Linked DNA regions of Homo sapiens. The protein of the gene in region 1 purifies or fractionates together with the protein of each later gene. This does not show direct contact. Each region holds a gene or a part of one and is shown in the gene's direction. Other genes may lie near its edges.

What was found.
Region 2: the proteins of EIF5B (region 1) and SRRM1 fractionate together in Homo sapiens (co-fractionation; one large-scale study listed by BioGRID). This does not show direct contact.
Region 3: the proteins of EIF5B (region 1) and YBX3 fractionate together in Homo sapiens (co-fractionation; one large-scale study listed by BioGRID). This does not show direct contact.

The regions. Positions count from the first base shown.
Region 1 is NC_000002.12:99,364,882-99,368,537, forward strand, and holds part of EIF5B (eukaryotic translation initiation factor 5B), read left to right. Parts: intron 1-3,611; coding exon 3,612-3,656. UniProt on the Homo sapiens protein: Plays a role in translation initiation.
Region 2 is NC_000001.11:24,670,386-24,673,781, forward strand, and holds the end of SRRM1 (serine/arginine repetitive matrix protein 1), read left to right. Parts: intron 1-1,000; coding exon 1,001-1,210; intron 1,211-1,796; coding exon 1,797-1,901; 3' UTR 1,902-2,896; downstream 2,897-3,396. UniProt on the Homo sapiens protein: Part of pre- and post-splicing multiprotein mRNP complexes. As a component of the minor spliceosome, involved in the splicing of U12-type introns in pre-mRNAs. Involved in numerous pre-mRNA processing events.
Region 3 is NC_000012.12:10,706,254-10,709,909, reverse strand, and holds part of YBX3 (Y-box-binding protein 3), read left to right. Parts: coding exon 1-2; intron 3-3,656. UniProt on the Homo sapiens protein: Binds to the GM-CSF promoter. Seems to act as a repressor. Also binds to full-length mRNA and to short RNA sequences containing the consensus site 5'-UCCAUCA-3'. May have a role in translation repression.

The DNA.
Region 1 (3,656 bases):
TTTTTTTAACCCTTTCCTTACTTTCTGATGCAACAAGATATCCCAGGTTCATCTTGCATGGGCTGAGACCTGGAATCGGTTGTTTATCCAAAGAGCTTTTGTTCCTTTTAGAGGGTAATAGTGTTTAGAGATCACAACTGGGCATATAATTTATTACTTTTTTGAAAGGTAAGGTGATTTAAAATAGTGTCTTTGCTCCAATGAGAAGAATATATTGGGACCTCTCTTAAATTTCCTGCTCCTATATTCCCTAGATTTTTATATTACAGTCATTTTGGTGTTTATGCTATAATTACAGTAATAGCTACCATTTATTGTGTGCTTAGTGTGTAACTGATGCTACAATGTCTTTGACATTGTCTATTTTTCCCTCATAAAAAAATCTTATAGCTATTTTTACTTCCATCATATAGATGAAGAAATGGTGGTTCAGAGTGTAAACAGCTTACCCAAGGCCACAGAGCTGAAATTTAAGCTGGTCTGTGCAACTTTTTCTTACGCATATGTTCAGCTAGGAACATTAGATGTGAAGAAACCCAGTACTTAGATTTTAGAAAGTTTTATTCTTAATGGAGAATATAGCTTTTGTAAAATTTTAAATGAAATTAGGTACAAACTTGAATATAGTTAGCATTCATACATCAGATTTCATTGGTGACTATTGGAGAGGCTAAAAGCACCCATGAAGAAATTCAGATGGGACCAAGCAGGGAGTAATTTGCCAGTCTCAAAAATGCTGTTTTAAGGAGCAGTTAGACTTGTAGTTATGGAAATTACAGTGTAGAATGGTGGACTTTTAGCATCAGTCTTTAGCATTAGGCTTGTAAGAGATGCTCTCTCAAGTGGCATCCCTGACGCTGGTCTCTTACTCTTCATAGTGTTGTCCAGTGTTTACCATCTTATTAGTTCCCTATTGTCTACTAATAAGAATCCAAATTCCTTAGCTTGACATTCAAGGTTCCCCCCCACCCACAGCCCACTCATGTGAGTCATCTCATTAAAAGATCCTACAGTGTTGTTTCATCGTATGTTTGAAAGACAGCTGCTTACCACATTTATTACCTAGAATATTGTAAAACTTATTCATTGAGCTAAAAATGTACTCTCAGAGAGTGTAGGCATCTGCAGGTGTCTTCATATAATTGCTCTGAAATGTGCAGCAGGTTAACTTTTCAGTCATCCTTTAGCCTGTGACTACTAAGCATATACACACACACACATATATGAGTACTTTATCAATAATTTGTAATAAACTCATTTCAGGCAAAGAGCTTCTTCAAGAACTTGATTGTTATGTCTCAGTTTGCAAAGTGAATGGAATGTCTAAACACATACAAGTCTTGGTGTTGATTCCAAGTACAGCAGCTTATTTGAGAGTCTGAGACTAGAGCAGTAGTCAGTTGATTAAGTCTAGGGTGTTATTGGGACCACCCTTCAGGTAATCCAGCCTACAGTTTCCCCTCAGGCCCATGCTTTTCATCTTAGTAGGTGTAGGCTGCTAGGCAAGGAAAACTTAAAGTGATGATCTCTGCATTCTCAGCTGGCTTTATCCTCTTTCTTTGGTTTGTTTAATGTATTCGTCTTACCAGTCATAGCTATGGTTTTACCATTCTAGCCATTCTTCAGTACATGCACAACACACATCCATATACATTCCTACGTTAGAGATAACATTTTTAGTCATTTTCCTTTATTAGTGACTTCATTCAAAATCCCATGGTATACAATTTCTGTTGTCTTTATTCTAAGGCTTCTGCCCATAGTGAGAGACTGAGTCAGTAATCCAGTAATCTGTAGATTCAGTTCAATCCCAGTCAAAATCACAGCATGGTATTTTGTAGCTATCTGTCAACTAGTTCTAAAATGGATATGAAGAGACCAGAGAGTTAGAATGGCCAAAATATGTTTGAAAAAGGAGAACAAACTTAGAATACCTGATTTCAAGACTTAGTATAAAGCTATAGGAATTAATACAGTGTGATATTGCCAGAAAGATAGACAAACAGATAAATAGTCTATACATGGTTAGTATATAGGTGAAAGGTAATTCAGTGGATAAAATACAGTATTTGTAGCAAGTGGTACTAGAACAATTGGACATCTGTATGCAGAAAAACCCAAAACCAGTTTTAATTCCCACTGTATAAAAATTGACCCAAATGGGTATCATATGTAAATGTAAAATATACAATAATACTTTCAGAGGAAAACATAGGAGGATATCTTGTGTTAGGCAGAGTGCTTAGATAGGACTCTAAACCATAAAAGGAAAAAAGATACATTTTGAGAAAGACCAGTTCAGAACTTTTCTCTGCAAAAGACACTGTCAAGAGAATTCCAAGACAGTACCTCCAAGTCAGATATCTGAGAAAGAATTAACATCCAAAATATATAAAGACCTCTCAAAATTCAACTATAAGAAAACCAATAAGTTCATTTAAAAATGGGCAAAAGGTATCAACAGACACTTTCACCAGAAAGCTATACGCATCTGAAAAGAATGTTCTAAAAAAAGAGAAACCTTTACCACATTCAGAGCAGTTGAAACTCTTTTTTTTTTTTTCTCTCTTTTTTTGAGACAGAGTTTCGCTATTGTCCAGACTGGATTGCAGTGGCGCAATCTCAGCCCACTGCAACCTCTGCCTCCCAGGTTCAAGTGATTCTCCTGCCTCAGCCTCCTGAGTAGCTGGGATTATAGGCACCCACCACCACAATATATATATATTTTATATAATACAATTTTTTGTATTTTTAGTAGAGATGGGGTTTCACCATGTTGGCCAGGATGGTCCTGGACTCCTGACCTCAGGTGATCCACCCACCTCGGCTTCCCAAAGTGCTGGGATTACAGGCGTGAGCCATTGCGCCTGGCCAAAACTCTTCTGCATTAGTGGTGGGAATGCAAGATAGTATAGCCACTTTGGAAAACAACTGGCAGTGTCTTTATAAAAATTAAGGTCATATTTACCTTATGTTTCATCATTCACACTACAAAATATTTGCCCAAGAGAAATGTTCACACAGAAACCTGTCTGAAAATGTTCATACCTGCTTTATTCATAATTGCAAAAAACCAGAAACAACTCAAATGTCCTTCAGCTGTTGAATGGATAAGCAAACTGATATATCCATACAATGGAATGCTGCCCAACAATGAAAGTAAACGAAGTATTGACATGTGCAGCAGAGTGAGTGACTCTCAAATCCATTATGATGATAGAGGCCAGACCGTAAGATTCCATTTATGTGACATTTTAGAAAAAGCAAATCTTTTGGTTGGAGAACAGATCAGTGGTTACCAGAGGCTAAGAAGGTAAGGAGGGTTTGATTACATGGAGCAGCACAGGATGATGGAGTGATGGAGCTTTTCTGCATCTTCATTGTGATGGTGATACACGTATCAAAACTCTCACTGTATGTGAAACGAGGATTTTTACTGTATGTAAATTTTAAAATACCTTATATGTAAAAGATACAAGTTTTTCCATGAATATCCTTTCATATTTTAGGGTATGTGTCTCTGTGGTGAATGAAATGCTATCCTTTAAATAGTACTTCTCAGGTGACATGCAAGTAGTATAAGCCTGAAGTTTTTCATTTTTATCCCTCAGGTGTTGAAGTGCCATCAAAAGACTCTTTGCCAAAGAAGAGGCCAA
Region 2 (3,396 bases), on another chromosome or scaffold:
TCATTGGGGCATTAAAATATTGGTGTTTAAACTTTTTTTCCCATTTGTGAGTTATACATCTGATCTTGGGCAGGTTTCTGTATTGCATAAAATCAGTGGTTAGGTGTCCATCTGTTTTTTGTTTGTTTTTGAGACAGGGTCTCATGCTGTCACCCACGCTGAGTGCAGTGGGATGATCATAGCTCACAGCAGCCTTCCTGGACGCAGGTGATCCCTTCGCCTCAGCCTCCCAAGTAGCTGGGATTATAGGCACATGCTGCTACACCTGGCTGGTTTTTTGTTTTTAACTTTTTGTAGAGACAGGGTCTTGCTGTGTTGACCAGGCTGATCTTGAACTCCTAGCCTCCAGTGATCCTCCTGCTGTGGCCTCAGATGTCCATATTTAATTGGGTTGACTGAATAGTTGTGCAAGCTAACTTGTGAGGAATTTTAAGTAATTGCTTAGAAGTGTGAAATTGAAATATTATGGATTAAATTATAGGAGCCTGCTTTTTGCATAAATTTGGTATGTGTGTCATGAGGAAGAACCAGTCATCCCCACTCTAAAGATAGGAGAGCTCAGATGGTAGCTAGAGACATGGCATTCATACAGGCATGTGTTTAGACTAATGGCTGGTACCATTTATTAAAAGTCTGCTACATGTTAGGCAAGTATTATGGGTGATTTACAGATATTCTCATTTAATTTTCACAAGAGCTTTATCAGGTAGGGATTATTACACTTATTTTAGGTAAAAAGGTCTCAGAAAGAGTTCAACAATTTGTCTAAGGTCAAATAGTTCAGGAGCTGGAATTGAGCTCATCCTGGAGATAGCCCCTGACTTTTGAATACTTTTCTTGGTGATAATTGGCCTTGGGCCTTCCCCACTCACACCCTCCAAAGCCTTTCGGAAATCTTGAGATTTGTCCATTGGGGATTTGAGGAAATAAAATGTTCAGTTGGACAGAATATTAATCAGATTGATTATAAATGCTGGGTGTTGTTTTTTTTTCTTCCTAGAATTCAGATCAGGAAGGAGGTGGAAAGAAAAAGAAGAAAAAGAAGGACAAGAAACACAAAAAGGATAAGAAGCACAAGAAGCACAAAAAACACAAGAAGGAAAAGGCTGTGGCTGCAGCTGCTGCAGCTGCTGTGACCCCTGCAGCCATTGCAGCTGCCACAACCACATTAGCACAGGAAGAGCCAGTGGCAGCGCCAGAGCCGAAGAAGGTATTTATGAACTCTGTATATGGCTGTCTTGCAGTTTACGTACAGATAGCAAAGTCATTTTGTTTTGAGAAGTAGCAAAATTGTTTTTTCTACTAATTAGCCAGTTACTCTGAGATAAAAGTCACGTACCATACAGTTCACCCATTTAAAGTTTGTGGTTCCCTGGGTTTTAGTATATCAGTTGTGCAGCGATCCCCACACTTTTTTTTTTTATAAAGGTGACTTATTTATTTAAAATATTAACTATCCACAGTGGCCATTATATTTGCATACAGTTCAGTACTCAAAAGATTTGTGAGGTTGGTTTTTTTTTTTGTTTGTTTTTTAATTTTATTATTATTATACTTTAAGTTTTAGGGTACATGTGCACAATGTGCAGGTTTGTTACATATGTATACATGTGCCATGTTGGTGTGCTGCACCCATTAACTCGTCGTTTAGCATTAGGTATATCCCTCCCTGCTCCCCCTACCCCACAACAGTCCCCGGTGTGTGATGTTCCCCTCCCACACTTTGATTCTGCTCTTTACTCGGCATTTCCCACCAGGGTCTCAAGACTTAACCGTGTAAATTCTGTTTTTTTTAGGAGACTGAAAGTGAAGCTGAAGATAACCTTGATGATTTAGAAAAGCACCTGCGTGAAAAGGCCCTGAGATCAATGAGGAAGGCCCAAGTGTCCCCACAGTCTTAGGGGGAAATGTTTGTTATGATGTAAATTTTATTTGGTTTGTACGCAGTTCAATTTCAAAATTGCTAAAATGTGTTTGAGCTTTAGACTATAACATTTGTTGTAATAATTGCTAGGTTGAAGTTCAACATGTAAAAAAAGGGGGCATGGATTTACATTGCAAAAGGTGTCCACAGTGTATTAGTGACATTCTTTCATTGACAGCTGACATAATTCATTGAGTGAAATATTTTAAGCCAAAAAAAAATTCCCTTTTTAAAAAAGGGGGTTTAAATACTGTTGGCATTTTTATGGTTCCTTTAAATGCCCTAGCTATTCCCAGAGGGGTTTTTTTGTTTGTTTTTTTGGTTTTGATTTTCTTTTTGTTTTTCTTTCTTCTTCTTATTTTTTTCATTTGAGTCTTAGCTCCCATTTAAGTTATGCTTCTGACCTTGTATGGTCTGTAAGCTTGCCCAGAAATAAGACCACTGTTTTGAACTACCACAAAAGTATAAATGAATATTTTAATGCCACAATCTTTCCTGTTGCCTGTGGAGTCTCTGCTGAAATGAATCAGGATTCGAGCTCTAGGATGAGACAGAAAATGAAAGCATGTTGTTTGCCAGGACACTGTGGGTTTATATTGATGTGTAACAAGTTGATTTGGAACACTGGACTCTCATTCTGTTATTCTGGTTTTGTTTTTTTTGTTTTGTTTTTTTTCTTTTGTAAAGGCAATGAGCTAGTCCCAGAAAGGATCCTTCAGTTACATACAATTTGTTTAATGAAATGTCATGGCTCTGTTCATATTTTTGTCTTGTTCTTCCAATTGGTATATACAACTTTCAGAGCCTCTTGTATTTGGAAGGCTGGAAGGGCCCAGACTTTGGAATAGTGTCTTGGTTTCACTGTTTTTGTTTTGATTTTTTTTTTGTTTTGATTTTTTTTAAACTAAAGCTATATAAAGCTTGTGGATTAAACAGAATAAATTTCTAAATTTAAAAATTTTGCCACTCTTACTTAGTAGTGCTTATGTAAACCTTTTGGTGTGTTGGGAGTTGGGCAGGGGAAAGAAAAGGTGATGAAATTAAGGTTTTACCATCTTTATTTCAATAATTACTGTGGTGAGTGCTATAAAGGGAATCAGCATGTGATTGGAACATTTAGAATACTGGTGGGAGAAGTCCACCAGGCAAAGAGAACAGGATTGCAGTCAGACAAACAGTGTCTGTGTCTTCCCTGAGGCAGAAGGAGCCTGCTGGCATGTTAGGAAGTGAACAAAGGCTAAGGAATGACTGGAACACCCTCTGTCAGGGGCGGGGTGGGGGGGGGGGGGTTGTGTGTGTGTATGTGCGTGTGTGTGTGCGTGCGCACGTAATATTTGGCTATCTACAACCAAGTCTGTTTTGCATTTAAAACTAAGTGGAACGAAAATTTGGGGAAACTTGGAGTTGTTAACATAGTGTGAGGTAAAACAGCAACATTCGTATGAAAGAAGTTCACCAGAAACCTAAGCTGA
Region 3 (3,656 bases), on another chromosome or scaffold:
AGGTAAAATTGCAACTGAGACTTCTCTTCAGCAATCCTCACCCTTCCGTCCTTCTCTGCCTCCTCTTCCTCCTCCTCCTCCAACATCAGCTGCCAGAAACCTTGCTTATGGCTTCCTGATGCTACAAAAGCTGAGGCAAGGCCTTCAGTCTGTTTTTTCAAAGCAGTCATTCCGGTAACACTTCTAAAAGCAAAACCACGTGATCCATGCCTATAATAGGGAACCCTTATGGCCAAAGTTTCTAGTTGATAGAAGAACAAAAGAATTAAGGTAACAAGACAGGTGGAATGTGTAAGAGCTTGGACTCTGAAGTCAGGCTGGATTTGAATCCTGTTTCTGCTACTTATTTGTGAGGTTTTGAGAAAACCAAGTTTTAGATTAAGTTCATCCATTAAGTGGGGGCATTAAATGCCTGCACCATAGGGTTATGATGATTAAATATAAAGGATTTAGCAAAAGAGATGCCTGCAGCATAAATAACATTTTTAAAGTATTGGTTTTAAATGAGACAGTGCTGATTTTTAAAGGCAACCTACCAGAATGGAGGTTGTTGATTATTGATTCTCCTTTTTCACTGCAGAATATTAGTACAGCTGTTTTGAGTTTGTTTTGTGCTTAATAAACCTTACATCAATTTTGCAGTTCCTAGGGAACTTGGAAAACTAGGGATAGATCATCATTTTTGTTATCAGTAGCCACAACTTTTTTCTCCTCAGTGTCGTTGGGGTTTCTTTTTTTTCCCCTCACCGCTAGATGTTTTGACCGAACATTATGTTCAGTCTGTTCTTTGCTACCCTTCTCCTGTCCCATCATGCATGACTGTGTTCTTTCTTGTTTTTTTCCTTCTACTCTTCAACAGCTGCCCCTGACAAATGTGCTAAAAATAACAAGTAGACTTACATATATGGAGAGATTGGGTACATGAGACATAGTAGCTTTAGGGCAGCACTCTGGGCTTCTAGGAAACAAGGACAGGAAAAGTCAGTGAGATTGTAATATGCACTTATTTTTAGCGTCTTAATAGTGCTTTCCTGAAATACTCCTCCTTAGTGTTTGGCTTATACAACATATATCACGTTTGCTGAAAGCATGATGATTCTTTTTCATATCTTTTGAAATAAAATGTATTTCACCTTAGGAATTGAAGTTTCAGAGCAAAGTCGTTCCTTAGTGCCACGTAAAACATCATATGCAGAAGCTGATCGAAAGCTGCTTTTGAACATGTACGCTTATTCCTGTAACTTAACTGCATTTAGTTAATTGACTGAATGGCTGACTTTCCTACCTATTCCATGTCAGAAGTAAAAGTTGTCTTGATCCTTTAAACCATATTTTTTAATAATCTTTATAATATCTACTAGCTCTCTGACTAAGTAGTCTGGTTAAGCCAGTCAAGAGCATCAAAAGAAAATTCCTAAAGCTCTCATCCATATAACTAAGCTACTTCAAGGTTGTCAGTGTGTTCTCTTAAAAATATATAGATGGATCTCTAGGATAGTAAAAATTATTGAGATCAAATATAAAAGTCTTCGCCAACGTTTTCTACTATTACAACGCTATGAAATTTATTGGGCATAATAGAAAAAAAAAATAGGAATATATAGGCCAGTGGTATTTGCCTTATGCACTAAGGACATAATATAGCATGATTTATTAGTGACTGAATAACTTCCATTTTTAAAGAAAATAGTTCTATAGATTTGAAAATTAAGTAGAATCATTCACTGAGCTACTATGTGCTTGTTGTCTTTGAGAAAATAATTATATGATGGAGGGAAGGGAGCAACATTGTGGCATCTACCAGGTGACAGATATTTGGAATCGGTTCTTACTTTAGTTGTCTCTAGAGCCTGAGGGAAGCAGTGGTTTCCATATTTTTTGTTGTTGTCACAAATGAAGGAATTTGATTACTTTTAAAAATCAGCAACTTTTATTTTACATGGACAAGAAGTGGTAGAACTTAATTTTAATTCATTTTGTTCTTGTCATCCAGTCTTTCTGGCAGACTCTCATCCTTTATACACGTTAATTGCTGTTTCTGTCAGTCTTTTTTTGTGACTCAACAGTTTCTGAGGAAGAAATGGCCGAGCTTACTTAGGAAACTAAAGAGAGGCTCATGTGATGGGGATGATGTGAATGAAGGGGGAGAGGGTATGAGGTGAGATCTCAGGGGAGGTCAGACATGCTGGTAGACCACTGTAAAGACTTGACCTACTGTAAATGTGATGAGAAGCCAGTAAAGGGATCTCAACAGAAAAGAAACATTGAAGAGATTATTGGACTGTTTTGTTGGGACTAGACCACAGGAGGTAAGAGTATAAAAGCAGGGAGAACAGCTGCTATAATCTTTTCAGTAGAGAAATGAACATGGGTTGTATTAGAGAAGCTGGCAGTGGAAGGTCTGATTAAATGGTTAGATTTGGAAAATGTTTTAAGCATATAGAGGTGTTGGCATTTCATGATGGATTGAGTGAAGAGTATGAGGAATGGTAATATATTGTATGAGGAGTAAATAATACCTCTGCAGTTTTGATTTAAACAAATACGGGAATACTGAAGAAAGATTGGGTTTGGAGGGAAAGGTGAAAATTCTTTGGAGGTCTTTTTCTCATATTAAATTCACGTACAAGTGGAGGTGTTAAGTAGGCAGAAGAAATAAAGCAGAGGGAAGAGGTAGAAAGTGGCTGGAGGATGGAAGGTGTAGTCTTAGATACAGTGGTTGACAACATTTTTGGGAGTTCATTAAGTTGTATTTGAGAAGAGACCTAAATGGAGCAAGGGATCAAGTCCATCAGGTCCCAGGAAAGGCGTGAATGGGAGTCTGAAGGGGAGAAATGGAACTGCAAATAATTATTTGGAATTATTTATTTATTTATTTATTTATTTATTTTTTGAGATGGAGTCTCACTCTGTCACCCAGGCTGGAGTGCAGTGACACGATCTCGGCTCACTGCAAGCTCCATCTCCTGGGTTCATGCCATTCTCCTGCCTCAGCCTCCTGAGTAGCTGGGACTACAGGCACCCGCCACCACGCCTGGCTAATTTTTTGTATTTTTAGTAGAAACGAGGTTTCACTGTGTTAGCCAGGATGGTCTCAATCTCCTGACTTTGTGATCCACCTGCCTTGGCCTCCCAAAGTGCTGGGATTACAGGCGTGAGCCACCGCTCCTGGCTGATTTGGAGTTATAAAACAGGATGTTTAAAGCCGTAGGGGCAGGATGATATTAACTATAAAGTGAGTGTAGGTGGAAATAGGGTCCTAGGATCAAGTTCTGGGACACACCAACGATTAAAGATTAGGAAGATGAGGATTGTCTAGCAAAGGACAGTGAGAAGGAGCAGCCAAGGAGAATGTATTTCAAGAAAGAAATGTGTTAAATGCTTGTTGATAAGTAGAGATTAAGCTGAGAATTGATTATTAGATTTGGTAACTTGGAGGTCAGTGGTTTGGTGAAGACAAAAGTTTAAATAGAATGAACTTAAGAAACAGCAAAGGGCGGGAAGAGGAGACATATTCCCCATTGAGGTTTCTGTAGTGGTGGTCATGGTGTTTGGTTTTTCTTTAGTATGTATGTCTGTAAAGAAATGGGGTAGTAGCTGGAAGAAGATAAGGGATCAGAGCAAGATTTTTGCTTGATTTGATTTGCTTTTTACAA